Linked DNA regions of Homo sapiens: all the other regions are linked to region 6. Evidence: fine-mapped expression QTL. A gene starts in region 6. Each other region holds a variant in brackets. All regions are shown on one strand. Distances are between the middles of the regions.

Region 1 (5,197 bases), 200 kb after region 6:
GCCTTCTAACGGGACCCTAGCTTTTGTGTACCCCAAGATAATTATATAAGCAAAGGTCTATCATGAACAGAAGAAAAGAAGAACAGAGCAAGCTTTTGGAAGTAAAGCAAGGTCTTTACTTGCCTGATTCAGAACTGTCTTAAGTCTCCCGCCCGTCCTGTGTCCTGAAGGCTGTAGTTATGGTGGAATAGGAGTAGAAAAGGGGTAAAAGTCCTTGGGGAACAAGGGAAACCAAATCAGCAAGGTCCAGAAGTCAAAGCCAAGTGAAAGAGGAGAGTTGTGGGCACAGGTGCAGAGCAGAACACAAGAGGAGGCCAGAGCACAAGCATCAGGTTCCAGTCCGACCATTCCCTCCACAGCACATGGACAGGCCTGGGAAGGGGCAGTCCTCACGCAGTTTAGAGTCAGAAGATTGTTTCACTCTCTTCACTTCTAGCCCTTGGCTTCTACATCCCCTTCCTCCACAAAGGAAGGAGCTCCTGTCTTCCTCCCCATACCACCCTCTTTTACAGGGGGCACCCAGAGAAGGCTGAGCAGGTGGTGTCCAGGCTGGCTTCTTGGGCCGTGACAGCTGGAGCAGCAGTGCTCAGTCTTGTCTCCGGGCCACGCTCTTGATCAGTCATGTTCACAAGCCTGACACGCTCCCATGGACATGGGCAGATTTTGCCACCCCTCCCTCTGCAAGGCCACAAACGTTTTTGTGTGTTGGTAGTTGTGAAAGCACTGTACAGACTCGAGCAACTTGCCAAGGGTATGTCAGGAGTGTAGGACTCTGGGGGGGACTTGAATGCAGAGAAAAACCAGCTGCACCATCTCTTCTCCACCTACTTTCCTCTTACTCAGGAAGATGCACTGATGTGAAAATGACATTAGGGTAGGTATCATCTCAAATTTGCTCCAATGTCTATGAGAGCAATTATTGGAAAACCTGTGCTATGATAATAATTTTAGCTACCTCATACTTGGTGCAAAAATTAAGGCCCTCTAATATCATTAAACAGAACTCTAATAAGCTCCATTTAAGATCTGTTATCCTGAAATCTTGATATGAATTACAATACAGGCGATTCTTAATTTATTGTTAGTTTCACCTATTTCCAAAAAGGAATGACAGTAACGTGTGTTTCTAAAGCACATGATAATAAAACTCTTAAAATTGAGATAGAAGTGTTTAAACCTTATCTAAGTAAGGTGGATGAAGCAAATATAACAAACATCCATGCCAGGAAAGTTACGGCAAGTGCTTTATTGAAGCTTGAGCTTTCTGATAGCAAAAGTAAGAAAAGGAAGCAGATGAAGAAAAACATGCCAGTCTTTCAAGAAAAAGAAATATTTTTCCAAGTACTAAATTCTAAAAATGGTTTGTCACACAGACATTAAATGTAAAATACAATGCAATGAATAGCAGTTTTGTAAAAATCACAGATGCATTATATTCAAGACCCCTGCTTGGATTGTGCCCCTCTCCCTTTGCAGAGTAACTAATTTGCTTTGCAAAATCCACAGTCACCTTGCCTAATAGATACAGAGGGTGTATAATATTCACCCTCTAAAATCCAAGAGGGTGAATATTAAGAATTTGTAATATGTTGTCGGAGGCTCATACCTTCACTCAAAACTCATTAGAGGTCTATTCCCACCCTGGTTGCAAATATAGGCCATAGATTAGGTTTGGAACAGACTGACTTCATATTAATTAGAGCTAATACGTTTATTTTATTTCTAAAGCCACAGGATCTCTATTTGTTTGATTTTTTAAATCTCCTTTTTTAGGAGTTCTTTGGAATTTATCCTCATGTGATGCTGTAAAAATGACAATCATTCGAGATGCTCTCTCAACCTTAACAAACACTGTGATTGTTCCACATTCTGGATGGAATAACTCTTCTTTTGATGATGATCATAAAATTAAATTTCAGACTTCACTAGTTCTGCGTAACACGACAGGTTGCCTAAGGTAAATTCTTTATTTCTTCTTTCCAGTTAATTCTGTGATTAAATATGTGTCATAGGTAAATTGATTTTAGGAGGACTTACTTTATTAACATCTATCTAAGTTTCCAGTTTTTATTTCAAAATTTAGGCCACTGGACTTTGTTATTCTGGGAGAAAAACATCGTGAGCACAGACTTGTGGCCTTAAAGAAGTTATC[T/C]TGTAAATGACTCTTCTGTGACTTACTCAGAAAGGCCCTTTCAGTCTAAGATTACTGCCAAAATTCCAGTGTTTTCCACTTTAACAGCATTTTTCTGGTAATCGCATTCTGATTGCTAATGTGTTTGCAGCCTGCTGTTTGTTTAAATTCAAAATGTGATGGTTAAAACCATTTTGCTTTTAAAGAGGTGTGTGATTTAAACAATCAGTTTCAAGTTGTATAAATAAGTGAAAATGAGCCCAAATACTTTTTTAGTCATTATCTTTTACAGTTAAAATCTATATATAAAGCCTCTTTCGAGTGTGCACAGTAGAGTTCATTATTTGCCCTTAACACTCATCAGCTCCATTTTGACCCTATTTCCCAGCCTTACAGTACCCTGGGAACTGGAAGCAAGCCTTAGGGCAGAGTGGCACAGGGACAGAGAGAGTGGGCTCTGGTCTCAGACCACCTGGCTTCCAGGACCCGTTTGAGCCTCCGTTTCCTCATCTGTAGAATAGGGATGATAATACCACCTCAGAGCTGTGAGGGGTCAGCAGGTACTTGTGGAAGGTGCTTAGCACAGTGTCATCGCATGAGCACTCAGTGAGTGCTGTTTAACATCTAGCATCACCAAGACAGGCAGCCTGAAAGAGAGCAAAGCTTGTGTGGCTGGTCTGCAGCCTTCTAGCATTGAGACAGGTGGCTATCGGCCCTGGTCAGGGGGCAGTGTTGGTGGGGAGGTAACAAGAGTCAGGATCCCAGAATGCAGGCCAGCTCCTCCTAATTCAGATGCCCACATCTCAGGGTGGGTCTCATGGCCTAGCAATCATCCAGGGAGCTAGGATTACTCCTCAGCCAGCCAGCTAGGCTTCAGGGAGAGCCTGGGGCAGGACTCACTGTAGCTCCCCCAGTGGGTCAGGGATAGAAACATTTGGTGAATGCCCTCTGTGTGAAACCAGTGACGAATAAAACAGACTAGATCCCTGCTCTGATGGAACCACATTCTACCAGGAAGACAGACAAACAAGGAAACAAGAAAATAACAGTAGGTGCCATAAAAACAAATAGGGTGATGTGAGGGTTATTGAATGGTTACTTTGGTGGTCAGGGGGTCTCTCAAGGAGTTTAAATTTAAGCCTACATCTGAAATACCACAAGGAGTGACTCACTAGAGGGTGGTGTTGGGGAAGACAAGAGTCATAGGCCAGTCAAGGAAATGGTTAAGGTAAAGGTTCTGGAGCAGAAATGAGCTTGCAGCCGTAGCCTACTGAGCAAAGGGCAGAGTGGTACCAGATTATATAGGATTTTGTAAGTCAGATGGGGTTTGCATTTTATTCCAAGTGCCATGGGAAACCATCAGAGTGTTCTAAGCAGTGGAGTAGTGGGCCTCATTTCTGGCTGCAGTGTGGAGGAGTGAGTACAGGCAGAAGTAGAGACAGGAACATCAGACTGTTGCAGAGATCCAGGCAAACAGTGAGAGTGGCCTAAACCAGGTGCTGGGGTGAGGTAGGCAGATTTGGGTTATTTTGTGGAGGAAGAGCTGACAAGGCTTGCTAATAGATCGAATATTAAGAGCGAGGAAAGGGGGGAAATAAGGATACACCTAGATCTTTGGCTGGATCAGCTGCAAGCACAGAAGTGCTGTTGATGGGGGGAAGGGACAGGAATGCTTGGAAGGGTGAGCAGCTCAGAGTTTTGACAATGTCCAGTTTGAGAAGTCTAATTAGCTGTCTATGTGCCAGTGTCAAGAAAGCATTGGAGAAAAGAATCCGCAATTCTAGAGAGCAGTCAGGGCTAAAGGCAGATGTGTGCCAACCTATGGCCCTGTGTCCATAGGTTGTATTAAAGACAAGGAGCAGAAGGCACCTTGGAGAGTGCAAAGATGAAGACAAGACAGGACCTGGGGCACTCCTGGAGGTGCCCATGGGCAGATGAGTCTGAGAAGTAGCAAGGTGAGAGAGAAGCCAGGTGGGGTCCCAGAAGCTGTGGAGAAAAGGAAAGTGCTGCGGAGAGGCAGGGCAGATGAGAGCCGCCATTCCACCGCCCCCTCATCTAGTCACAGTTTTGCAAATTCTCAATTTGCATAATTTTACAGTTAGCCTAGAACCATTGTTAATGGGACATAAAATAGATCCTTATTTGGTATCAATTTATGAAGGCAAATTGATATAAAAAAATTTAGACACAAAACCGTTTTCTGGGTGTTTTATAATTGAAAAGATCAGAAAAGTTTTAGCATAAGCAAATATCTATATTTAACTTGAAATGTTTATAATACAAGAAATTATATGTTTCCTCTGTTCATCCAAAAAACATTTAATGACCACCTACTTACTGCACGCAAAATATTATAATAGGCCCAGGGGACTGCAAGAAGCTTCTGGCCTAACAAGGGAGGTGAAGCATGTCTAGTAGTAGCCACCACCATGACTGACAGCAGGCCACCTTCTGGGAAGGAGGCACTTTTCTAATTGCTTTCTATGTAGCAACTCGTTTCTTCTTCACAGCAACCCTGTGAGGTAGTTACTGTTATTTTCCCCCTTTTACATATGAAGAACCTCAGGAGAATAGGCCCCTAAAGAATTATATGAGGGAATTAGAAAGTGACACGTCATGAGAGAGATACAGTCCAAATGTGCAGGTTCCCTTCCATGTGTGGATAATGGGGAGCGGGCCATCATTGTGAGCTTCAGGATGTTACCATGCAAGCCCCCAGTGCCTCCTCCGACCTCTAAGTGGCTGCCACCTGTTGTTCGCTCTCTCAGATCCTTAAGGTTAAGTCCACGTGGCTGATGAGTGCATGGTTCATCTCAGCAGCTCCTCCTGTCTCCACCCCTTTAGGAACCTCAGCTCCGCGGGGGAAGAAGCTCGGAAGCAAATGCGGTCCTGCGAGGGGCTGGTAGACTCACTGTTGTATGTGATCCACACGTGTGTGAACACATCCGATTACGACAGCAAGGTCAGTGCCGGCCTGGTTGCAGGAGGGCGTGGTGGCAGGTGACCATGATGCCTGGTGCCACTATTTGCATGCCATTGGTTCTTTCTGACCTGCGGATCCTGTCC
Region 2 (5,197 bases), 91 kb after region 6:
AAGGTCAGGTGCCCTTGTTAAATATTGTTGAGCACTAATAAAATCTCATGAGCCTAATACTTTTGATAGAGCATAGCTATTAGGGAGTCTAAGCAGTTGCAGAGGTTAGGATTTTCCTAATAATACTTGCATTCAGTTCATAATCTTATACTTATTTAAACCTGTTTCTAGTCACTTTTCATCATATCCATGAATAATTACAGCTACTCATTCTTATATCCATATATAACTGCATATTTACCCCCTAGGTTTATGCTTGATTTAAACCTGGTACCATAGTTATTCCTAATTGTAAACTGATGATGAGATTTCACATGTGTATTGCATAATTTAATTAGTTTAGTGTTTGTAAAAATTCTTTGAAGGTAAAATATTTTCATAAATGCCAAGAATTATGATTACTTTTGTTATGTAATTTCTAAGACTCAATTTCTCTTGCATATAGTTCCTCTCTTAAGGAAGGTTTATATACAGTGCCTTTTAAAAATATTTCAAAATTGGAAGCATATTTTTGGTTGTAGTAGATACTGAATTATTCTTGCTGGTTTGAATCTTGAAGAAAATGAAATGTAAATTCAGATTAAATTGGTATCTCTTTAGTACCCAGAATATGTTTTTGACATTTGGATACTGCCCATTAAATTCTTTGTATTTGACTGTCTGAAATGTATTCTGAATTTGTGTATCTGTTCTGGGTTTTATTTGAACTGAATTTTAGTTAAGTAAAGAATTTTAGTATACTTTAAGTGGTATTAAATAAAATGAAAAAGACTGATTTCAAATATTAATCTTTTTAGATTCTTTTGCCATATGTTCTTTTCCCAATTTATTTTGTCATATAGTTTCCATTTGTTCAAACGTCATTTTTCTTCAGATTTTTGCTTTATTCTCTTTGCAAGATTATGAAAACTGTCTCTTCTGTAACTGCTTTCAGAGTGAAGCCTGCAAACAGGAAATGCCCAGGTAAAGATGGTTAGATGGCACAAATAGTAAGCACTGCATATTTAAACCTGATGCTTTTGAAATCTTCTTTTTTTAAGTAATCACAAGATATTTGGGAGTTTGGTTGTCCTTCTCAGTACACAGGAAAGAAACGTGAAATTTTGGTTGAGAGAAGTAGCACCATAGGGCATGAGCCAAAAAATGTAGCAGTAGGCAGCCCAAGAGAGGTGTCAAATTCAAACTAATTTCACTTTTGAGAACAAGATTTCCTCTCAGACAGTGCAGCTCAGAGGATAGAAGATAAGCATAGAAAAACAGCATGGGATCTTTGAGGTGGGCACAGGTTAAGGATAAAGAGCAAGGGGATGTGATTTACAGACATAGAGACAGTACGAAACCAGGCCTGGTGCATTGCAGAAATGCTGAAATCTCAAAGTTGAGAGAAGAAAAGGTCAGAGGATTGGCTTCACAGAGAGGCTACAGTAAGTAAAAAGGCCTCTTTTTTATGCAGTAAGATAAGAAGTAGAAGGTACACACACTGGAAAGGAAAAGTGAAACTCTGTTTTTCACAAAGGATATTATTGTATATATAGAAAATTCTTAAGCAGGAAGGAGCAAACTATAGCCTACAGTCTAAATTCAGTCTACCACCTATTTTTGTATCACCTATGACCTAAGATGACTTTTACATTTTTGGGCCATGGGGGGGCAGTGGTAAGTGTAAGATGGCACAACCATGTTGGAAAACAATTTGATAATTTTTTGTAAAGTTAAACACATTTACCCTATGGCCCAGCAGTTCTCCTGGGTCACACCTAAGAATAAAAGAAAAAGTATGTCCACACAAAAACTTGTCTAGAATGTTCATAGCACTGTTATTCACAAATACCCACCAAACTAGAAACCACTTAATTATCTGTCACTGGGTGAATTAATAAATTATATTCATAACATACAACAAGAAAAAAGAACCCAACCATTGATACATGCACCATGGATGAATCTCAAAAATCTGCTGAGTGAAGGAAGTAAGCCAAACATAAAAGAGTACGTACTGATTTACTCCATTGATAGAAATTTTAGAGCAGGCAGAATTAATCTGTAACAACAGAAAGCAAGTCCATGATTGCTGGGGAACAAAGGGAGGGGCAGTACTGCAAAGAAGCTAAGGCAATTTTGCGGGGTGGTGGCATGACCAAAATATTCTGAATCTAATTGGAGCTGTGGCTCGTTGTTGTGTACATTTAGTAAAACCCCTAACGCTGTGCCTTTAAAATGGGTGCATTTTATTGCATGTAAGTTATATCTCAATAAAGTTGACTTTTTAAAACACATTAACATGTTTTTAAGAATCACAGTAAGACCCTGGCTTAAACTAGATTATCGGCTTCCATAGAGCACAGACTCTTGGATAGACACTGTTTTACAAAACTCCAGTATGCAGCTTAATATTGGGCACTCATAAAATATTTTTGAGCAGACACCTGAGTGAAAGAAACAAGACCACACATTAGGCTGAGCGTCGAGGAGTGAAGCTCCGTGAAGTCGGCCAACAAGGCTCAAGACCGGA[G/T]TTCAAGTCTGTGCTGAGGCTGGGTGAAGCTGTTGGATATAAAAATTTTGTTTTAGATTTGTTCATCTTAACATTTATTTTTCTATTGGAGAAAAATATGTGCAATGTAATCCACTATGACTAGAATAAAGCCTTTTGAATGGCAGACAGGGATTCAGACAATTAACTGCCTGTGGAGTACTCTGTACAGGAAACAATTTTACTGAAATAACATAAGGAGCCTGTATTGGTAGTTTTAATAAAATCAAGCCTGACTCATCTATTTGAGGACCAGGATTATGGAAATAACATCTTATGCTTCAAGAGTATTTTAAGATTGGAACAGTTATACTCATATTTATGAAAAAACAAAATTTGTGCATAAGTAAAATTTTAACCCTGTGGAGAAATTTAATATTTTTATTTGGCTTCTTTATGTTAACCCTGAAGAAATTCCTTTAGATTATTCAACTTCATAAATGTTAAGTTTCACTCCTCCAGCCACCCAAGATGCCAAAAGGAAAGAAGGCCAAGGGGAAGAAGGTGGCCCTGGCCCCTGTTGTTGCAGAGAAGCAGGAGGCCAAGAAAGTGATGGATCCCCTGTTTGAGAAAAGACCTGAGAATTTTGGCATTGGATAGGACATCTAGCCCAAATGGGATCTTAACCCACTTTGTCAAATGCCCCTGCTACTACATCAGGTTGCAGCAGCAAAGAGCTGTCCTCTATCCAGAGCTGAAAGTGCCTCTTGCGATGAACCAGTTCACCCCGGCCGTGGACCGCCAAGCAGCTACTCAGCTGCTTAAGCTGGCCCATAAGTACTGACCAGAGACAAAGCAAGAGAAGAAGCAGAGACTTGGCCTGGGCTGAGAAGAAAGCTGCCAGCAAAGGGAACATCCCCATTAAGAGACCACCTGTCCTTCGAGTAGGGGTTAACATTGTCACCACCTTTGGAGAACAAGAAGGCTCAGCTGGTGGTGATCGCACATGACATGGATCCCATTGAGCCAGTTGTCTTCCTGCTTGCCTTATGTCCTAAAATGGGGGTCCTTGACTGCATTATCAAGGGGAAGGCAAGCCTGGGATGTCTGTGCATAGGAAGACCCTGCACCACTGTTGCCTTCACACAGGTTAACTTGGAAGACAAAGGAGCTTCGGTTAGCTGGTGGAAACTATCAGGACCAATTACAATGATAGATATGATGAGATCCGCCATCACTGGGGAGGCAGTGTCCTGGGTTCCAAGTCTGTGGCTTGCTTTGCCAAGCTGGAAAGGGCAAACGCTAAAGGACTTGCCACTAAACTGGGTTAAATGTACACGGTTGAGTTTTCTGCACATAAAAATAACAAAAATTCTCCTTCCAAAAATAAATTAAGTTTTCAGTATTATCAGAATGGTACTTTTACAGGGGTGGATCATATTTTATTTCATGTCTAAAAAATAGGCTTGAGTCAGTGTAGTCTGCTTTTTAATCCTTTTAAATTTTATTTATAATATTTTTCAGAGTTTTTGGGAAATCGTTTAGTGGCCCTTCACCTACGCCCCTGTGAGGGACGAGTGCTTTGGTTGAATATGTTCCTTCCCACCGCCACCCCTAGATTTAGACCTCTTTCCCCACCCTTTGCTATTCCACACACTAAGGGCTGCTGGGCCTGCAGGTGGTTAGGTGCCATTGCCCCTCTGCTTGGAATTCAAAACAGAGAACTTTTTTTCTTATAATATTTTAATAAGCAGAGGGAGGAGGTAAAGATTGATTCAACTGAATAGCCCAGTATTTTAATCTTCCGTGTTGACCAGTATGGAAAGGGTCATTAATATTCCAACACTCATATTTTGCATTTATTCACAAAAGTTTAAAAAGTTTTCTTGATTTAATTCCGATGATTTTATTGAAGGGATAGTAGTTTATTTTCATAAAACATGTTTTTTTCCATTATTGCTTAAATTCTGTGAATTTACAGAAACAAAACATTTAGGTTGTGAAAACTACTTAAGATTATGCCTAATAAATGCATGGTTGTAGTTTTAAAATTATTCAACCTAATGTAAGTAATATTTTATCTCATAGCAGTGTCGCTAATGGGAGTAGTATTGTCCAACATAGGAGGGTCAGGCACAGACGGAAGATCAAAATCTCACTCTCCTGAGGCTCCATCTATGGCTCTGCTCTCTAAAGAAGGTTACATTTATAGATCTCTCAGAATAAAACATTACTTTTCTGCCAAGAAGAAGTTAAACAATCTATTAATGTGGAAAAATGTTGCTTCAAACACAGAAGTCTATTTGTAATGTGTATCAAAGTGGATTCATGAATGAATCTATAGCAGTATTTTGCCAGAGTTGTAAGAATGTCACTTATAGCTTACAAAGTCATAACTTAATAAAAAGAAAATATGGACATGTGTGTTAATGTTTTTAAAGGCAAGCTTACTGAGGTATAATTTATGTAAAATAAAATTTAATGAGTTTTGACAAATGAATGTAGTCATGTAACCATAATCAATATATACAACATTTTCATCACCCCAGAAAATGTTCTGTAAAGCAGTTTTCAAACGGTGGTTGTGAGTCCTTGGACAAACAGTGTGACCCAACAAGCACTTTACCACCAGGGCTGACTCCCTGATGGGGTGTGATTTCTAGTCCTGCTGTTTGGCTGCACTCTCAGCAAAGGTGGCAACTTGGGATCATGTTAATGTAAGACACT
Region 3 (5,197 bases), 63 kb before region 6:
TTCCTGCTTTCATGGTGCTTACTGTCTAGTGGCCTCTTGTGATGATGAACCGTGAATTACAGAAGGGCAAGCTCCATTTACTATTGATGGCTGCAACTCTTTCCCAATAATGTAATAAAAAATATTTGTGCTCAAAATGGATATTCTATATTTATCATGAACATTTAATTAAAAGGTCAATATTACTTGTGAATTGCCTATATTACTACTCCTAAACCATACAAGCTAAGCTTATAACTATCATAAAATTTTAGAGAACATTTAACCAAGATGACACAGATGAATTAAACATTTGCTACCCAAGTAATGAGACTTTATACTACTAGTTGCTGAAATTGTTTTGCTCTATTAAAATATTAGAAAAATGATCTTTCCTTATTTCTGAAAACACAAGTATATTGCTAGTCCATATTGCTTGCCTCAGCACTTATTATTATTTAAGAATAAAAATAATTAACAGATCCCTCTATTAGGAACCCACAACATCCAAGGATAAGTAATTCTTAAATAGTAAAACAATTGAGGCCTAAGGTGAAATTTTTGTTGCAATATCATGACATGAATTAGATTCTTTTCACTTATACTGAAGGATGAGGCATGGGCTTGCAGAATTGTGTAAGTAAAGTTGTAATCATTTATCAGAAAATAGCTTTGGGACTGTGATTACACAGACATAAGCAAAATCACTCAGTAATTCAGGTGAGCATATCAGGCAATAAAGGTTCCTTGGTAACAGGGGCACAAGTGGTGGTGTGAGGGGATGAGACCTGGAGGAGGATCTGAAAAAGAGGAGGCAGTTTTAGGGTGAAATCAAAAGGAGAACAGTCCCAGATTCTCCCCAACTGGCAGTATCTCCCTTTCCCCATGAGACAGAAAGTGATGACTTCACCAGATAAATTCACGCTGCAGAAGGGTCATAATTTCATTGCATACTCAGACATAAATCCACTTCCTGCATCTGAGTCATCAGGTTCTTTCATCTTGGTTTCTCACCTCTAGTTTGAGATTATAACACTCCCCATCCTATATTCATTCTTCTATTGATTTATTCACTCATTCAATATTTACTGAGCATATAATATGGTCCAGTCATTGTGCTAGGCGCTTGAGCTACAAAGATGAAAACAATACAGTCTCTATTCTGCAACAGCTCTGGGCATTCATCTCTAAATTCATAGTAGTGGTCTGTAACTTTTTTATTACATATGCCTACTAATGCACTTTTCAGCATGTTCTGTCAATAATGAATATTTATTACAGGTTGAGCATCCCAAATCCCAAAATCCAAAATGCTCCAAAATTTGAAACTTTTGAGCACCAATATGATATTCAAAAAAATGTCCACTGGAGGAGTATTTCAGATTTTAGATTTTTGGATTTGAGATGTTCAACTGGTAAGCATAATGCAAACATTCCAAAATCCCAAATCCAGAACACTTCTGGTCCCAAGCATTTTGGATAAAGGATACTAAACCTATATTTGTAAACTATTACAATTATCATAAATTATTTGCATTACTATATACTATATAAATTATTTGTATTACTATATTACTTTCATCTACTCTCTCAGGGCAAAATAAACCCTTAAGATAATGTTACTAGACAGCAATAGTGAAACACAGATATAAATCTATATTTTAAATTATCTGAGTCATTTTAAATCTTCTATAAGATGTTACTGGATTGCTACTGTTGTTGTTACTGTGATGGGCCTGATGTCAGAGACATTGCATACGACTGCACACAACCACATGCCATGCTATTGCTGACAGTGTTTGTAGCAGTATAGAGGAGTCAGCTCTGGCTTTTTCCTGTCATTTGTGTGCTTACATTACAAGTATTATCTACAAGTCAGGGTGTTTCTGTAGGAATATATTTAAGATACTTGTCCATCTTGTGAAGGTAGTTTTAGTTTAAAAAAAAAAGTTAACATAATCTGTAAATCCTCTTAAAACCAGATAAAAATAACTATAACATTTCATAATATGCTGAATATAAGCAAATGTGTGAGAGCAAACCTGGAATAATAGGGGAACTGAGTGAAGGTGCCAGGATGGATGTATACATGAAACATTAGAAAAGCTTACCATATTGCCTTAGATTTCAAATCAATAAAAATAGGTCGAATGCTGCCTGGATCATCTTGTACTCTACATGAAGGAACTCTGGTCTGTGGAGTGAGGCAGAGATCATGATATCGTAGCTATGCTACTGGAGCACAAAAGGCAGATAGCCTAATTTTGCTTAGGATGGAGGGCCAAGGTGGAGAAAGATAGGACAGGTGATGTATAAGGTGAGTCTTTAATAGCAGGGGGCTTTCATCAATTATAGGGAAAGGGAAGGCCTTAGAAAACACAGATATTTGAGTGATGGGGCCACAAGGGTGGGATATGTTTGAAGTAGTACAAGCAAGCAATTCTGTGTAGCTACAGGTTAGGGGGCCAAGTGGGCAGACTCAGATACAGACAGAGAAAAAAACTGATAAAAAGAGGATTGACAGAAATCTGCTGATGCCAAGAACACCGATGGCTTCAATTTTGAAAAGGGCAGCCAAAATTAAATAGATGAGCTGACAAGAGAGCAGATCACAGAGGTGGATGGATTTTTAAAGAGAAATCATTGAGGAACATGTCATATTAAAAGACATTGCTATAGATAACCTTTCTTGGGAACTAAATAAATGGGTCTTTTCTCCAACAGTATCACAAAAAATAGAACAGTTTCACCCATAAAAGCCTTTCCTTATACCAGATATCTGTGGGATAGACAAATGGAATAATTATATAACAAATTTGATTTTAAAGGATGTGATTGTCATTTTGCCTTTAATGACCAAAGAGCCTTC[C/T]GAGTTCCTAGATCCTAATATTCTTCTTTGTAGATCTCTTACTCTTCAATACCAGTAAGGGACTCTGAGGACTGACCAAAGAGGTATGTTTAAGGTTCAAATGGATAAGTCATTATCACCTGACTCATTCCACTTACAACCACTGTCCATCAGTTTTGAGTTTATTTACAGAGGGTAAAGCTTAGTTATTATGCACTAATATATGCAAAACATTTGCATATATTCTTCTACTCCTAGAAAATTCAGAAATTGCAGAGAGACAGTGTATTATAGTAAGGCAAAGCAATAATTTCCATTGACAAATAAATAGGGAAATAAGTTGAGGATCCCAAGCTGCATCTGAACCAAAATGAAAGAATAAAATTTTTCATAGCTGATATCTAAAATGAACAAAAAGGGAAAGAAAATAGAACTATTCTGAGACTTCTAAAAACTTGGGAGGTAGGATTCAGGTTACAAGAAGGCATGAGCAAACTCTAGGAAGGCTGGCACAGTAAACATTTAGGGCTGTTTTGGGCAAAGCTGTCTAATAAATAACAGTCAGTACTAAGGTTTAACAGATGTCAGGGAATTCTGAGTACTGAATCACCCTGAATTCTTCCAAATTCTCATTCTCACTTCCAGAAGGAAAAAAAAAAACTGTGGAGAAACCCCACATTCCTTGGGGCTTCAGAAGTAGGGAGAAGGAAAGACCAACTAAAACTTGGAGAGTCGGCCCCTCCTCTGTTCCCTTTCATGAGCCTCATACCCTCAATAGGGCCTCTCTCCTTGAGGTAATCACAGATGCTAACTCACAGGCAGTAAAACTTGCCCACCTCATTCTGACTACACCCTGACAACTAAGAAATTTTTCATTCACCCTCCTCCAACGCCAAAACTCTATTGTTTGTTCTCCTTCTAAAATGAGTTATCTTATTATAAAAAATTCAAACAATACATTGAAAGTCCATAATCCTATCCCTTAGAGAGAGCTATTTTGTGATTATTTCTTCAGCTTTGTTTTCTCTTTAATTATTGACAGAGTCTGTTCCTTAATCAGGAAAAAAGAACATTAATTTTCTAAAGATAATAGTTTTATTTTAGAAACATAAAAAATATTCAAAATCTAATTCACAGCCAAAAAAAATGCTACATTTCTGTACCATAAATATAATAGGATAAAAAACACCAGCCAATAATATGGTTTTGTCTAGTTGAGGGGACAGATCTAGGCAAAAGGTAACATAATTAACAAACTTCTGTGCCCACTCTTCTGCTTCTGAAGCAGCCAGAAACCTGCCCGTGGTACACAGGGCCTATCCCAACTTCCACAGCCCAGTCACCCCATCTAATCAATGACACATATTTCTGAAGAGCCACTTCCTCCTCCCTGCTGTCCAGGGAAATTCCTATTATCTCAGCTAGTTGTTTGAAGGATATAATCTGATTAACTTCATGTTAACAAGTGAATGAAGGAAAGACTGCTTGAGCAGGCACCTACACAGGAGTATGCTTGTTAAAACTAAAGAATCTGTAAAGGCTCAAATTTCAGCCTGAGTGATAATGTGAAAGGGAATAATTTCTGGTAGTGTACAAAGATAATTTTGATTAGAGGAATCTCCTTGTTGAAACTGAAAGTCATGCTGAACAACATGGACAGCCTTTCCCTGCCTATGTGAGATCCAGCATAATGCCAACTTCACAGCAATATGTCACTGTAAAGGCAGCAGAGCTGAGCAGGAAGACAAAGGGCTCTGGAATCATGCACATCTGGATTCACACCCCACACTGCCCCTTGCTAGAGCTATACATTTTTGGCAAGTTGCTGCTATTATTTTTTGACCTCTCAAATATCTATCCTCACATGTCTAACAGGAATGTTATGGGAATTAAATAAAATAGCTATACAAAGTGCTTGGCACATAGTAGGGGCTTAAGAATACAATCATTATTACTTATGTGATTTCTTTCAGTCTTTATACAACATTTAATAAACTGGGATTTCCCCAGAGTCTTCCGTAAAGCAATTGTTGATGGAATGGCTAAGGACAGTCCAACTACTGGCCAATACGGAAGATTATATCTCTTATTGTATTGTGTCATCACTCATTGACATGGTTTGAATGTTCCAAAATTTTTCCCTGAGAGAGGTAACACATCAGGCCCAACTTGGTCCCCAGACATAATTATTTTAACCCTCACAGTGTTTTGTTTAGCTTTTCATTTGCATCTAATGCCAATATTTAATAATTGAGAAATATTATATAAAATCCATGTTTTCATCATCTTTTTAAAATTTCTGCACTAAAAAGTTTATTTCTCTATGAGAACAACTGCTGGATTTAGTAGTAGCTGTCATTTTTTTAGATA
Region 4 (5,197 bases), 270 kb after region 6:
CCTCACAGTGAGAGCATGCTCGTGAGTTATGGAGATGCTGTCAGCTGCAATTGCACCAGGCAGTCTCCATGTGGGTCTCCCCTGTGGCTCTGATGCCTGGCAGGGAAGGGACCCTGGAGGGGGACTGCTGCTCAGGTGTCCAGACACCTGGCTGAGGGAGAGAGGGACCCACAGATCCTCTAGGACCGCAACAGCCCAGCCACCCTGGACGGGATCTGCAGCCGGCTGTCAGGGCATGCTCCTTGGAGCTTGGTTTGGCTTCTCTTTGCTGTTCTTGGAAGCTGTGTCTTTGGAAAGCAGAAGCTGGAGTTCCCCCAGCCCTTCAGGTGGCTGGTGTTTGCCTTCTCTCTCTGCCCTAGCAGCCACACCTCTCTGGAACACTCTGATGTGCGTTTATGGAATGCCCCAGTCACTAATCTTACAATTTGTTTAATGAAAAGGAAAAAAAAAAGTCACCCAATCACATATCTGTGGCATTAGTCACAAAACCCTTGACCTGAAGTGCCCAGACTACACCAGCTGCTCCATCCCACGAGGCAAATGGTACCCACCTCACCACTCCCTCCAATGGATGGGTCCCTGAGCACTGGCCTGGCAGACTTGAGACTCACTTGGTGCCCTGTTCTCCTGTCCAAGCCGTGGAGAACTCCAGAGGCAAGACTGCCTGGGTTCACTGTCCAGAGCTGATACTCCCTTGGCACGGGCTCTCAGACAAGTCATTAACCTCTCTGCGCCTCAGTTATCTCTAAAGGGCGGGGGGTAATTTTAGTGCCCACCTGATAAAGTCATAATGGGGATTAATAAGTTTCCTGAGTACCTGGAAAGTGCCAGCTGTTACTGCTGACAGTAATATTATGGCCGCCCATGGCCCGGTAGAGCTGCGGAGAAAGCCTATGCAAACAACCTCCCAGAGCAGAGATGATACTGCTTGCTCCGAGCCAGTTAACCCAAGGGCGAAATGTGATCCTTTAACAAATGCACAGCTTGCTTCCTGCTATAGCAGGCTGTTCCCAAAGACATCCACCCTTTCGCTGTCTCCATCAGGACTGAGAGTGGCATCCCTTTAACAGGGTAGAGTCCCTCTGGCTTTGAATGGCTGCCACTTATCAAATGCCTCTGCAGTCTGGCTAGGAGTGAGCCAGACAAAGAGCTGGGTGTGTGCAGTGCATAACCAATGCCTGGCCAGCGCTGGGCTCACTTGGCTATGTGTTGCACCTGATGACATCAGGGGTTGCCTTGCTCCCCAAGTGGTGACAACTCGGCTGTCATAGGGACAAATTATGAGGGGATTCCTGTCCCCTCCTGTGAAGAAGAGAATGGAGAAGCCAGGGAGAAGCTCTGCTCACTGGCTCTGTTCTTCTCTGCAACATGGGATCTGTACTGATCTTCAGCTGAAACCTAGTAGCTGATGGGCCACTGTCTCCCCCATCAACTGAGATCACCTCTCATTTCCTTATATCTGCAGGACTTTTCTTTATGTCTATGAAATTAAAGGCCTTGGGGTGTGGGGGTGCAGAAACATGCAGTGAACCCATCCCAGACTCATAGCACCCAAATCCCTGCAGGCGGAGCCCAGTCTTCTCCGCCTGAATCTGATGCACCTCTGTGCTTGAAGACCGTGGATTTACAGGAATTACCTGACCCTTATGTGTATGCAGCCAGATGGTCATTTAGTACAAGCCTAGTGGGTTCTAGCCAAAGGCAAACAAAAACTGGCCAGTCTCTGTCTAGACTCTGGTTTTCTGAGAACTGCCCAAAGAAGTGAATACTTGAGTCCACATGAGAACTCAACTGATCTTTACTAGTTGAATTCAGACTGCCCACTAGGTAGCTTCTCAGCCTCATTCTGCAGGGCCATATGCTGAGATAGGTGCCACCACCCAGGTAGGAGACTCAGGTTGAGCTGTGCCCTGGTCCAAGTACAGAGCAGGCAGGCACTGGGAAGGAACCCAGTGGCCTGGCTGGGAGGCAAAGTGAGAGGCACTGCAGGTTCTTAACCAGGCCCAGGAAAGGAAAGGGCTGTTGAGCAGGCTTTATGGATGAATGGAGGTAGCTCCCATGGTTCCCACCCCTCACTAAGAGCCTGGGGGCTCGGCAGGGGAGCCTAGGCCACCCCTTGGTCTTCCTCTGAGTCCTTTAGATGCTGTTTGGCCACCTCAGGCACAAGTGTGGCTGAGATGTTTCCCTGCAGGCTTGTTCCTGAGAACAGTCACCTGGGCAGTCAATCTGAAGGTGGCTGCTGGGAAACCTCAGGCTTAGGAGTTGGACCCAGGACTCACATGGTGTGAACCCAGCTCAGAGAAACAAAGCTCATCCTTGGAGCAGGGCCAGCAGAGGCAGCTGAACTTCACGGTCCAGACCAACAAAGCCGTCCCCAGTGGAGCTCTTGGGAGAGGAGCCTGGAAGGGACAAAGGCCAGACACTGGCCACTCTTTAAAACATAAGGAGTTTCATC[G/A]TCTCATACCCTGCTGGTGGGGCCAACGGACAATGAGGACTGAACATCTGTGAGGTGCCACGTCACTTCTCAAAGACAGATCACAGAGGCCTGTGCTGTTAATCTGGGCTCTGTCAGCTGCATCAGCTGACAAGCATGGCCACTCACCAGTTTCTAAGGCTGGGGAACATCTGTTGCCATTGTTTTGCCTTGTCTCTTCTTGACTTGCTGCAGAAAAGGCTTGTAATAGTTATTTGCAAAAACAGGTGGAGTGCTTTGAAGAAAAGCCCTATATAAACAGAAATAACACAAACAGGTTGCTCTGCTGCGAGGCTGACCTGACTCCACCCTGGCCCAGCTCTGTCATGTCAGCAAGGCTGCTGCCTTCCCCAGAAAAGGGCCATTAGAGGCCTTGGGGAGGAGAATACTGAACACAGCACTGGGGCGAGAAGACCTTAAATCAAGCCCTAACCCGACCCTTACTGACTGTGTGACCTTGACTAAGTCACTCAACTTTTCTTCCTCAGCCTGATTCTGTCATCTGGGAAATGTGGGTAAGCAGAACTCTTCTGGTGTTGTATGAAGATTAACTAGACAGTGCTTATGAAATGAACTGGCTCACATTAGTTAGAAAAGTCATAGAAAGTTCTAGCTTGAGGTATGGCTTTATTCAGGTTCTAAGAATGCCAGCAGGTTTTGCCCCTTGGTCCTTCTTCCCCTGGGTTGGCCCCCTGTTCCTGACTCCATCTGGAAGCTCTGGCAGCCTCAGCCTCACACCGTAACAACACTTAGCCCAGCAGACCAAAGCAGGTAGGTGCCTGTCACCCAGTGCTCTGGCAAAGTCCTGAGATTCACTCTGCCTGGACCAGGTTAAGTCATGTGACCCCCAAACCAGAACCAACCAATATGTCTGGGACACTGAATGCTCAGATTGACCTCATTCACTCACTCATCAAGTGTTTATTGAGCATCTACTATGTACCAGCTACTATTGTGCATTCTGGGGGCATAATATTGACAAGGCAGTAAGCTCTGTTGGGGCTTACTTACCAGTAGGAGACAGAAAACAAACAAATACATCAAACAGAATGATACAAAATTAGGAAATAACAGATATTAAAAAAATTAACCACCTACAGCAGATTCAGAGGGTAGAGATTGATGTGGGGTATGGGGTAGAGTGCTGTTTAAATAAGATGGCTCTCTTAGGAGGTGACATTTGAGACCTGAATGCAATGAGAATAGAAGCTGCGAGAAGATCCGGGCACAGAATATTCTAGGCAGAGAGGGCCAGTGCAGAGGCTCTGAAGCAGAATAAGCCAGGCTGGTGAAGGAAGAGCCAAAGTGGCCAGTATGGACAGAGGAAAGTAGACTGACAGAGAACAAGGGGAGGAGAGGTGGGGAAGTGGCAGACGCCATGGGAGGCTGGGCCCTGCCGGCATGGGGAGGAGACAGAGCTTCATTCTGACCATGGTGGAGTCTGCAGGCTTTTCGGAAGGGAAGAGGCATGACATGAGTTATGCTTGGAAAAGCCCCCTTGCTGCTATGTGGAGAGGGGTGGGGGCCACAGGGGCCAGACAGTAGTGGCTGGAACGGGGGTGGTGACAGAGCTGGCGAGAAGTGGCTGGACTCAGGACATGTTGTAGGTCATGAGTTCCATCCCTGGAAGCAGAACCTCGTGACCTTCCCAAATGGAAATCGGGAGCTATTGCCAGAAGTAATGGGGGTAGATGCTGGTGGACAAAAAGCAAGAGTTTTCCATGACTTTCACCATTTGTAGTTTCATCAATGTTTCCGTGTGGTGCTATCGTTTCACCATCATTAGTGTTCCCTTGGATGGAAACTGTATCTCCAATTTCTTTTTCTTCCTCCAAGGCCTAGAATCATTTCGAGGGATTTTAGAGACGATGTGGTCCAAGTCCAACCTCCTTGCAGAGCAGAATCCTAAAGCTTAGGAAAATTTTGGAATTGTACAAAGTCCCCCAGCTAATTAGAGCTGGAACTGGCATGCGGCACTCCTGGTTCCTAGTGCTGGCTCCATTCATGGAACAAAGGCTTAATTTGGGATGCTGCCAAGAACTGGTGGAGGTGATGGGAGAGGGTCTTACCCTTCTGCATTCTCCATCAGCATCTCCCCAAAAGCCAGTGTGCTCAATAAGCAGAGACCCCACCCTCTCTGACCACCACACTGCCCCCAAATCCCTCAATACGTAAGTCCTGGAGCTGCCCCCGTGTACAGTCAACAGCCTTTCTTCAGCAATGCTAATGAGAGTCAAGCATCCAGGCCGTAAAAGGCAGGCTCACATATGGGAAACACCGGGGTAGTGCCTTATTTTTGTTATTTTTTATTTTTTAGAGGAAACTTTATTTGAAGTACAGTCTTTTTATTCCTGCCGGGAGAGCTGCCAGTGGACAGCTCATTGCTCCTCAGCCACAGGGGCAAGTGTCTGCCTTTGAGGCAGTTCTGCAGTCCATAAAGCAAGATGGATGGGCAGCTTTGCAGGAGCAGAAAGGGCCAGCGTGGAGCAGCCTGGGAGGGGACTGCCTAAACTCTCCTGCAGATGCTCAGTGTGTCCTGGCCGGTCTCCTGTGGTAGAGGGGCCTGGGGACAGCTTTTGCCCTTGGGCCCAGCACAGTGTCTGACACTCCGGAGGAATCAATATGCTGGGTGAGGAAAGGGCCAGAGTGGTTGGATCCCCATGACATGCACACTTGCTGGGCCATAGCACATGTCCTCTGGGCCATCTTCTGGGTGACAGGGGC
Region 5 (5,121 bases), 37 kb after region 6:
GCAGTTGAGTATTTCATGATATATATCCATCCAGTTTTATCTCTCCCCTCCTTCTGTGATGGTTATTTAGATTGCATTCACCTCCTCACCATCGTAAAAAGGGGTGCGTGATCCCTTGGGACCTGTGTGACAGTTTCTGTGGGAAATATGCCTAGCACCAGAATTGCTGCATCATAGACTATCAGTACTCTTACTTTGCCTGAGCTGTGCGGTGCTGATACTCTCTAGAATGGCTGCATCCATCTATATGTCTCCACAACCCAACACTTAGCGTGGTTCAGTCTGCCAGGTGTAAATCAACTCATTTTCAGTTTGTATTTCTCTGACTACTTATGAACTTGATAATGTCTTCATCTGCTTGTTATCTTTTTTTGGGTATCCTCTTCTGTAAATTTTTTGTCCATACCTTTTGCCCAGTTTTCTACTGGGGGTTCTAATCTTATGTTGATTTGAGGGACATCATTATATTCTGGATATATATCCCTTATTATGGCGTTACAAAAGTCTTTAATATCCCACTTGTCTGTAAACTTTATTGAACAGAAATCATTAAATGTGCTATCAAAATCATCGTTTGTTCTCCCTTCACCCCCCACCCCAGCCATATAGCTTGAAGGTTTTGTTCAAATCCTTCTCTAGCCCTAGTTCTCAAGGTATTCTTCGTGCTTTCTTTTTTATTTTTAATTTTTATTTTTGAGACAGGTTCTCACTCTGTCACCCAGGCTGGAGTACAGTGAAGCAAGTATGGCTCACTGCAGCTTCGACCTCCCAGGCTCAAGCAGCCCCTCATGTCAGCCACCCTAGTAGCTAGAGGTGAAGTAGATGGAGCACAGGTGCGCATCACCATGCTGGAGTAATTTTTAAATGTTTTGTAGAGATGATGTCTCGCTATCTTGGCAGGGCTGGTCTCAAACCTCTAGGCTGAAATAGTCCTCCTATCACAGTCTCCCAAAGTGCTGGGATTACAGGCTTGACCCACTGCACCGGGCCCCTTTTTTTAACTTTATAGTTTTACTTTATACAATTTGGCTCTCTTGCACCTGGAGTCTACGTTGTGTCACTGCCCTGATTGAAAAAAAAAATCTAATGGCCTCAGTTGCCCACAGAGTGAAACAAGGCATCACAGGGAATAGGAAACTCCTCAGAATCTATCTCACACCTTCCCCCTGTTCAGATATTCCCATATTCTTATAAAAATAAGAAACCGAAAAAGCAAGTTATGCGAAGTTAATTTTTTTTAGCTGAGGAATCATCTTTGTCTTAATCTCAGTTGCTTCCTCTCCACTGGTTGCTTCTCCTTAAGTATCTTCTGTCTCCTCAGATTTTAACAACAGCCAGCAACCTGCCTTCACTTCCAGAGAGCTGTACTGGCACCCCCTCTCCCCCACACCAACCCCAACCCCGTTTCCCTTTGGCTTCCGCCACCCTGCTTCCCCTCCTGCCACCCTGCCCGGGCTTTGCTCCTGAGGATACTCTTCATCTGTCTTGCCCATCAACACTTGACAACCCACTCCATGGGAAAATTGCTTTCCTTCTTTGCCTGTTACAATAGTATTTTTTTCTGTCTCCTTTTGTCTTTCTGACTCTTACTACTTAAGTTCTGTTTCCAGCTGACCATTTTCCTCCTGCGTACCTTTTAACATTACTATTTTCTTCTTCTTACAGAAGTGTTATACGTGTTTACAGTAGAAAATGCAGACTAACCAAAAGATGGACTACCCATAATTTCATCATTTAGAACAGCTTTTTGGTTTTGTTTCTTTAAGAAAAGGGGATTATGCTTCATAGGCATAGTCTTTATACATAACCTTTATTTCCTCCCTACCTAATAATATTTATTTTCTAAACTGTTTATTTTTAATGTTTGTTTTAGTTTTTTATTTTAAATTAAAATATTGAAAGCCTTATAACAAATTATAACAGTCCTTTGACCCCCTTGTCTCATTCTTTTTGCCAGAAGTATATACTTTCAGTTACTTTGTCTATTTCTTCTGATACTCATCTCCTTATTTCTAAATAACATATTATTTTTTAAATCATTAATTTTAGATATTATCTATTATTGTTAATACATAGATGAGAATCTCTGCCTTATACCCCTTTGCTGTCTTCCCGTTTTCCTAATAATGACAGATCATAATTTTTTATTAAATTACTATTTATTGTTTCCATTATTTTGACTATATATATCATTCACCAGTGAGCCAAATAGTTTCTCATCGTTTTTTAAATCCAAGTGTTTTTTCCACCAGTGGAAATACCTGCCTCATTTTTCCATTTCCTTAACTTCGTTTTGATCTACAGCCAAATCTTCTCACACCCTCCTTTAGCCTCTTAGTGCCATTTTCCATGTGGTTACCCTAGCAGCTCATCAGTGAATCCCATTTAACCCTCACATTTGGGACCAGCCACCTGTCCTCCTTTTCCAGGCTGGACTGGTTGCTCTCTAGGCCTGCTGCACAGTGTCATTAATGCCTGAGTAGCCCTCTTCCAAAACTGAAGTCGGTGACACAGTGACGTTAGCAAATTGAGAGATTTGAGAAGGTCTCAAGAGGCTTCTAGTCCCTGTAGGTGTCTAGCACTGCTGCATGAGGGCATTGAGCAGCATTTGGCCTGGGCTTCTGTTTTGTGAGTGCTGCTCACTTGGCAACATGCTTTCCTCCTTGAGGTTTCAGGACTGGTGAGCTTTTCCTGCTAATCTAGGTCTTACTGTTGCCTTTCTCTCCTCTTCCCTCACTCTCCCCCTTTCCCCACCCTTGTGGACCCCTTTTTTCAGTCTTCTTTCATTCTCCAGTGTGATTATTGATTGCACTACTAATATTTCTTGGTCTTTGGGGAAGAAATGAATGGAGTCCAGGGGTGCAAAATTCATTTAAAATGAAGCTGACATTTTCATTTCAGTCTTATCAGGAGGGAGGCAGATTCTTGCCAT[G/A]ATAAAAGTTGGATCTTTTTTAATACAGTTTAGGAACTTTAAAAGGTAAACACTGATGAGAAGGGAAAAGCTATTTGTACTTAGCATACTGCTTATTCGACTTCAACTAAGAAGCTCATCCATTACACCAATTTAGGCATCTCACTATGTTTCTACTACTCTAGGACAGCAGAGTATATATTTATATTATGTACTTTTTTTTTTTTACTTATGGAGGGGAAAATGGGTTCTGTATAAAACAAGAAACAGCCCTAAAAAATGTGACCTTTATATAGTCTTACTTGAAGTTAGTTGAAATATCAATTGTGCCAAATAATATACTTGTAAACTACAGCGTTATTTGCAATGATATGAATAAATAAAATGTGTTAGTTATTTGAAAGTAGATGAGCGAATTATGAACCTGATATGTCTGAAGTGATGATTAATACCATTAAGGATGATTTGTTTTGTAATAACATATTTAAACTAGGTAATCATGGATAGTAAAGCACTTTAAAATATGGTAGTAGATTACTTTCATTATTCAGTTATTTAGGTTTTTAATATGAAATTTTCTAGACCAGTTGCAAAGACTTTTTCAAAGTACTAAATATCCCCATTATAAATAAAGTGCACTTAATGGTTCTTTTAATTTGTAAGCAAACAGCAAATGATTTTTTATAACCAAATAGAGATTTTAGTTTTGCTATTTGCTTGCTCTTTAACTTTGGGCAGATATTTAAACTGTTTTGAGCCTATGTCCTAATCAGTGAAGTGAGAATCGTGCCTACCTCTAGAGGTTTTGCAAAAACTTTAATGAGATGAAATAAATGATCATTGCTCTATTTTTTTTTTTAAAGTTGTGCATTTTTAGTAGTCAGGAAAACTATTAAATCAATGAGGTGGCCGGGCGCGGTGGCTCACATCTGTAATCTCAGCACTTCAGGAGGCCGAGGCAGGCGGATCATGAGGTCAGGAGTTCGAGAGCAGCCTGGCCAACATAGTGAAACCCCATCTCTACTAAAAATACAAAAAATTAGCCGGGCACGGTGGCGGGCATCTGTAATCCTACCTACTCGGGAGGCTGAGGCAGGAGAATCACTTGAACCCAGGAGGCGGAGGTTGCAGTGAGCCGAGATTGCACCATTGCATTGCAGCCCAGGTGACAGTGCAAGACTCCGTCTCAAAAGAAATAATAAAAATGAAGTACCATTTTTTTCACAGATTAGGCTGACAAACACTGGAAAGAATGATAAAACCTCATGTGGATGAGCGTTGGCAAGTTGGACTCACATTGCTACAATTCTTCTGGAGAGTTAAAAAAAAAAAAAAACAACAAAGCCCAGAAAGTTCACTTGGCTCATCACTTCTAATGTGCTATATAAGGAAATAATCAGACAAGTGGACAAAAACTGTTTTCTGCTGAGTCGCTTATACTCTCAAAAATTCTAAATATTAGTACATCAGACAATGAATTTTTTTGTAGCCATTAGTAATAACTATGTTTAAAAAAAAAGGAGTGTCCGGGTGCCGTGGCTCCCACCTGTAATCCCAGCACTTTGGGAGGCCAAGGAGGTCCTGACTTGAGGTCAGGAGTTCAAGACCAGCCTGGCCAACATGGTGAAACCTCGACTCTACTGAAAATACAAAAATTAGCTGGGCGTGGTAGTGGGTGCCTGTAATCCCAACTACTCAGGAGGCTGAGGCAGGGTAATTGTGTGAACCCAGGAGGCGGAGGTTGCAGTGAGCTGAGATTGCACCTCTGCACTCCAGCCTGGGCGACAGAGCAAGACTCTGTCTCTAAATAAATAAATAAATAAATAAATAAATAAATAAATAAATAAATAAGAGGGGTATATATGTATATATTTTTAACCTTTCATTATGGTAAATCAATATCAGTTTTAACATATATTTTCTTTTTTGTATACATTTTTACTTGAAAATATTTTATTTTATTTTATTTGAGATGGAGTCTCACTCTGTCACCCAGGCTGGAATGTAGTGGCGCAATCTCAGCTGACTGCAAGCTCCACCTCCTGGGTTCACACAGTTCTCCCACCTCAGCCTCCTGAGTAGCTGGGACTACAGGCACGTGCCACCACGCCCAGCTAATTTTTTGTATTTTTAGTAGAGACAGGTTTCGCCATGTTGGTCAGGCTGGTCTGGAACTCCTGGCTTCAAGTGATCCACCTGCTCCAGCCTCC
Region 6 (5,197 bases):
TCCTGGTAGAGAGAAGATGGCTCATGTTTAGGAGCATAAGTGGAGTATGAGCCTTGAAGAGAAATGTGGTCACCCTTCTCAGCCATGACTGAAGGAGGTGAAGATGTGTGAAAACTAGGACTGAGGTTTAAGAAAGTTAAGTTGAGGAACCTCATGGTGGATCCTTCAGTAGAGTACGAGGCAAGATCATTTGCAGAAGTGCAGGAAAACCACGTAAAGTGGGGGCTTCAGGAGAGCAGACATTGGACAGGTTTGGAAGTGGCCTGGATAATGTTCCTGGATAAGTGTTCCAGATAATCATCCTCCTGATGAGGAAAGGAACTGAGAATCAGTGAAGACACAGCCAAGTCTGAATAGCATGAACTTTTAGTGGAATGAAGTGATTCTTTAACCTTGTCTAGCAATGCTTAGTAGCGCAGGAGCAAGTTCAAAAGAAACCTTTCAACTAAATACAAAAATAAACAAAAAAATTAATGTTGAGTGGCAACTTATTTCAGGGGACATTATTCATGGTGGATTTCAGTAACATTTTAATTATGACAAACACGAAATCTACAATATCAAAATAGTCATCTGAGAAAAACACCCACACAAAAAGATTATTGGAGTAATAATCTTTTATTTTCTTCTTTCTATGCTAGCCTAAGGCAAGAGAAAAGACCCATTTTTTCTTTCCATTAGACACAACTTTCATTCATTTGATGTTATTGAAATTTAAAAGAAGCAAAATCATTGGTATCTTTTCATTAAACATGTGTCTCATATAACAATTTGTGGTTTACTTTTTCTGTTCTATAAACAAAAACACACATTAAAAAGCCGGAAGAAGTAAAAAACAGCCTATTTCCATGATGGCCAGCCATGGCACAGCACTTCCTGGCCCCTGCTGATCCCTTCTCAATTCTGAAAATATTTAGGGGGAACATACACACGTTCACCTGTTTTGTTCCACAGTCCTACCCTGTGTAGGACTGTCAACTGAGTTCACATTTTACTACAAATGTGGAGAGGTTTTTTTTTTTCCAATCAAGGCACCATATTAACATTTCTTAGGTTACATCTTTGTAATCTTCAATTATAGTAAGATAAAAACCAGTAGCAAAGCATATCACCCAACTTAAAATTCAGAACAATACTTAGACATATGCAGCTTGCACACACATTAACCTGTTTCTCCCAACAAAATATTTGTAATTTCCAAAATCCTATCAGCTTTTTCACACAATATGGTCCCTCCAATTTGAGGGGTAGTAACATAGTCTCCTTACTAAAGAGATTAGTCTAAAAAAAGTAAAATCGCCAAAAGAATGTAAGAATATCAGTGGCTATAGGCTAGAGCAATATCATCTTTTAAAGCCTAATATGTTCATGAAATCTCACTTTAAGAAGGTGATATCTAAACATAAAATTTATTGACAAAAAACAATTAGTATTGATAAACCACCACAAAATGATTTTAAATGAAAGTAGAAGACATTATTAAAGCTCAAGATTTTTGCGTGTACTGATTTCATGCCTCAGGTTATTTCCATATCAAATTTAAAGAGATACTGGAAAATAGAAAACAAAATCCATCAACTGTAATCCATTTCCCTTACTCTTTTGTGAAATCATCACAAGGTGTGAAGGATTGTTTCTGTTTCCTCTATCTTTAACAAGCCTGTAACCTCTCAAGTGAAAGAACATGCACCTGTCAAGCTCATAGTGCGGGATGTACACACAGATGTGTTTAATAAATATCTGCCCACAGGGAGATTAGAGGTTTGCTTTGAGAATCAGGGAACAGGCTAGCTCATGTGTTGACGCTTTGGCATCTATCATACAATCCGCCACCTCGTTCCCTTACCAAAATATCCTCAAAGGAAATCCTCTTTGAGTCTTTCAGAAGAGTTATGAGTTTGAGGACCCAAAACGTTGAGGAAAGATCCACCCCAGGGAAGGGGGAGTGGCTGCAGAGAACAAACATAAGTAGGATTTAGGTGGCTCAGTGACGTCAGGAGGAAGCAGCGATGGAAGGGATGGGGTGCAAACTCACCTGGAGAAGCAGAAGCTGCACACATGTCAAAGGTCAAAGGGCATAGCCTCAGGGACTCCCCAAACGCAGGAAAAGTGAAACGCCCACTCCTGGGCTCTCGCCGTCAGGGGTACATCTAAGGGCTCAGCTGTTCCTACCTTTGACGCCAGGGACAAACCCTACCAGGCACAGTTGGGATTGGCAGTAAGGCAAGGAAAGCCTGCCCCAGATTTCAGAGCCAGCGCTGGGGAATCTCCCTGTCCTCTCCGCCACCCCCTCCCGCGCCCGAGACCTGAGACACCTTCTCTCTCACACCCACCCTCTCCAGGCCCTCTCGCGCTGAACAGCATCGGTCTCTATGGCGACCTGAAACCGCAGCTCCCATTGGCCTGTTCAATATGAGGGCCGGGCCAATGGGGAGGGCCAGCCCTCTCCTTCCCGCCAATGGGGTGGCGGGAGCTGGCCCGGGGACGGCGGCGTGCTGACGTTCCCGGGAGCCCGGGGCTGGCCGGGCGGGAGGGCTGGCAGCGGGGCGGGCGGCGGCGGCGGCCTCTGGGCAGTAGAGGGGGCTCCGGGGCTGAGTCCGCGTCGACGCCGGCCGCGGAGGCGGCACCATGGGCAAGGGGTAGAGGGGCAAGTTGGCCACCGCCGCCGCCGGGGGTGGTGGGAGAGCCGCTCCGGGGGCGGGGGCCGGTGGGGGAGGGAGGGGCGGGCAGCCGCGCCGCCGCGGCACTTTTTTAATTTTTTCGGGTGCCGCAGCGGCGACCCCTCGGCGCCGATGTCCCTGATCCCTGGAGCGACGACGGCCGCTGCCTAAGCTGGAAAGTAAGTGTGTGGGCTCGCGGGAGGGCGCGGAGACTCCTGCCCACGAGACCCTCGGCCCTCGCCCCGAACACGCGCCAGGGCCAGGACCTGCGCGCCGGGGGCCGGGGGCCTCCCTCCCGCTGCCGCGTCCCCAGCGCCTCGCGGCCGCCGCGGCTTTCCTGCCCCGCCTCGTGTTCCTGCCCGCACTCGCCTGCTGCTCCCCTCCCCCCGGCAGGCGCACAAGTTTCACCCTCCATTTGCTTTTCCCGGCGATTCCTCTCCCCGGTCTCCCGTACGCGCAGCGCACGACCTCTGCCCACGCTGGGCTGTTCGGATTCAGAGCTCCCAGCCCCGAACTTGAGCGCCGCGCTGAGCCCTGCTGGACGCCCTCGCGGCGGCTTCCCCGCTGCCTGCCGCCGCGCGCCCCAAGTCGCCCTCGACACCACTGGGCGCCCGCCCTCCTCAGCACTCGGGGCCGGCTGTCTGTCCTTCTAGCCCCAGATCCTGCACCTTGGTCCCCTCCCCGTCTTCCCACGCCCCTGCTGCCCGCGCGGTCTTGCGTTTGTCCCCGAAGTCCTGTACTCCTTGCCGGTCCTGCCCACCCCTCTGCCTAGTGCGCCCCTCTCTACCGGCCGCGGATCCTCACGCTCCACCCCTCCCGGCTCCCCAGCGCCGAGCCTCGCCGCTGCCCTCCTGCGCCGCCGCTTCCTCCTCTCCCTGCCAGGAGTTGAAGCGGAGCTGCGGCACCTCCCTGGCGGATCTGGTATCCCCGCCCGCTGCCGAGGCTGCCGGCCCTCTCCCCTGGACCGCTACCCGGAGAGCGAGCGGCGGGGCCGGGATTTGGCTGCGTGTTGGCTGAGTGCGACACACCGCGAGCGCGGGCAGTGGAGGTGCCGCGGCGGCCGTGGCCGCTCGGGGCGCAGCGGTAGTCAGGTGTGTGTGTACAGCGGGGGACGCGCGCTGCCGGCTCCTGGGCTGGCGACAGATTGTGCAGGAATGCGAGGAATGCACCAGGGGCAGAGTCCACACAGCCCGCCGCGGCTGCCCTAGCGCCTTCCCTCCCCAGCTCTCGCCGCGCAGCCAGAGGTCACCGGAGCATCTTCGGAGCTGGTGAGCCTCATTCCACTCCTCTCCTCCCATAGCTTCCCTCCATGCGGCAGAGGGGAAGCGCGGTAATTCTTTGGGGCTCCAGCTAGCCTTTCGTCTGGGTTTTTGCTGCATTGGTCTTCAGGACCGTGAATTTGGGGCCGATGACTGTGTAGCCAAGGTTATTGATCATTGCACAGGGCTGTTGGCAAGTTTGGTGTGCAAGGTTTGGATAGTGCCTGGTTTTCACTAGGGTTTTCTGAAAACCAGCAGAAACAGGGGGCCTGAAGGTTGTTAGAGTAATGAGCTTGCAGCCAACATATTTTAGCTCTATCAAAAAATGCCTGTTAGTGCTCACGGGCATGTACTGCGAGAGAGATCTTGAATGCATCACTTTGGTATCCTAAGAAGTGTAATTTTTTTCCCTCGTCATACTGGGCTGTGTTTAGACCTCGTATAATACATAATGAATAGAAACAGAGAAGCACTGTTCGGTCAGCGATGGGACAGATAGAACTGTCTGGTACAGTTAAATTCGGGACGTGTCAGTTACCATTGAAAGTAACACGGGGACACCACAATCATGTATATTTCAAGATGTAATTTATTAGTGGAGGTCTCAGTTTTTTCTCTTTGTTACTGAGTTTGACTGAAAAAAAAAAATAAATGCTGCCCTACAAGTTTTAAAGAACGGTAATTATTTACGTGTAAAATCAATGATGGCTAGTATGCATTTTTGGTCAAATTTTGTTTTCCTTAATACGGGAGAGCAAAATTTTGACAGAAAATGGTTCGCTAGAATTGAGCTTAGATTCTTTTTATTTTTAAAGAGAAACTAGAAGAATGCTTCTCTTCTTGAATGCAGTATATTGCTGTAGGAGTATCTTCGTTTTGGTGCCTGTGAAACAGTTATGGAAAATGGCAACATGAAAACGAGAACAACTAATGTCTGAAATAAGTGTTTCTGGGTGTTGAAAAGCATCATATGTGTGTTTTTATTTGACACAATTTGCTTTGCAGGTTGCATTTATGATAAACCTCTTTGCACCTGGTTATTTTATGTCAGATTCAGTAAAATAATAAGTCAGTTGTCTGACCAATCAGCTTTCTTCCAACACCTACTTTGTGTAGATCATGGACATTGAAAACTATTAAATAGGAGCCTTTAGTTAAGGACTCAACAGAAAGGAAAAAAAATAGAAAAAAATATTTTGCACTCAGAAACGTTTATGTTTTGGTTGCTACGTTGTTTTTCAGCTATGTGCATAATCAGTGAATCTTCTAATTTAGAGG

Which allele goes with the higher level. Alleles are on the strand shown, and positions count from the first base shown. SD is a standard deviation of normalised expression in the study named. Not every link is listed here.
In carriers of allele T in region 2, the expression in sigmoid colon of the gene that starts at base 2,573 in region 6 tends to be higher than with G alone (small effect, 0.18 SD a copy in GTEx).
With allele G in place of A in region 4, the expression in putamen of the gene that starts at base 2,573 in region 6 is lower (small effect, 0.16 SD a copy in GTEx).

What was found. PIP is the estimated chance that this variant, and not a neighbour inherited with it, causes the effect. A credible set is the group of variants that fine-mapping cannot tell apart.
Region 1: its variant is the best candidate, but not a certain one, in a credible set for the expression of PKP4 in whole blood (INTERVAL, PIP 0.59).
Region 2: its variant is the best candidate, but not a certain one, in a credible set for the expression of PKP4 in sigmoid colon (GTEx, PIP 0.61).
Region 3: its variant is the best candidate, but not a certain one, in a credible set for the expression of PKP4 in whole blood (TOPMed, PIP 0.80).
Region 4: its variant is the best candidate, but not a certain one, in a credible set for the expression of PKP4 in putamen (GTEx, PIP 0.64).
Region 5: its variant is the best candidate, but not a certain one, in a credible set for the expression of PKP4 in whole blood (TOPMed, PIP 0.77).

The regions. Positions count from the first base shown.
Region 1 is chr2:158,656,358-158,661,554 of GRCh38, forward strand. It overlaps PKP4 (plakophilin 4), which reads left to right. Exons shown (of 22, transcript NM_003628.6): 12 at 1,774-1,957; 13 at 4,976-5,093. It overlaps PKP4-AS1 (PKP4 antisense RNA 1), which reads right to left. Exons shown (of 4, transcript NR_135242.1): 4 at 1,980-5,197. Among named protein-coding and RNA genes, the nearest start is that of PKP4-AS1, 76 kb to the right of the region's middle. The variant T/C (reference allele first, on the strand shown) is at 2,153.
Region 2 is chr2:158,545,424-158,550,620 of GRCh38, forward strand. All of the region lies in intron 2 of PKP4 (plakophilin 4), which reads left to right. It also overlaps the pseudogene RPL7AP22. Among named protein-coding and RNA genes, the nearest start is that of PKP4, 91 kb to the left of the region's middle. The variant G/T (reference allele first, on the strand shown) is at 2,513.
Region 3 is chr2:158,391,138-158,396,334 of GRCh38, forward strand. All of the region lies in intron 1 of CCDC148 (coiled-coil domain containing 148), which reads right to left. Among named protein-coding and RNA genes, the nearest start is that of CCDC148, 63 kb to the right of the region's middle. RefSeq lists a silencer at 4,070-4,223. The variant C/T (reference allele first, on the strand shown) is at 2,849.
Region 4 is chr2:158,724,643-158,729,839 of GRCh38, forward strand. The region is part of intron 1 of PKP4-AS1 (PKP4 antisense RNA 1); the gene reads right to left. Among named protein-coding and RNA genes, the nearest start is that of PKP4-AS1, 7.8 kb to the right of the region's middle. RefSeq lists an enhancer at 109-608. The variant G/A (reference allele first, on the strand shown) is at 2,456.
Region 5 is chr2:158,491,119-158,496,239 of GRCh38, forward strand. All of the region lies in intron 1 of PKP4 (plakophilin 4), which reads left to right. Among named protein-coding and RNA genes, the nearest start is that of PKP4, 37 kb to the left of the region's middle. The variant G/A (reference allele first, on the strand shown) is at 2,933.
Region 6 is chr2:158,454,380-158,459,576 of GRCh38, forward strand. It overlaps PKP4 (plakophilin 4), which reads left to right and starts at 2,573. Exons shown (of 22, transcript NM_003628.6): 1 at 2,573-2,839. It overlaps CCDC148 (coiled-coil domain containing 148), which reads right to left and starts at 2,374. Exons shown (of 14, transcript NM_138803.4): 1 at 2,036-2,374. The coding sequence starts at 2,060. LOC124907900 reads right to left here and starts at 3,755. Exons shown (of 1, transcript XM_047446754.1): 1 at 2,752-3,755. The coding sequence starts at 3,075. The coding sequence ends at 2,752. RefSeq lists silencers at 2,278-2,572, 2,303-2,672, 2,893-2,942, 3,193-3,242, 3,263-3,322 and 1 more and an enhancer at 3,853-3,932.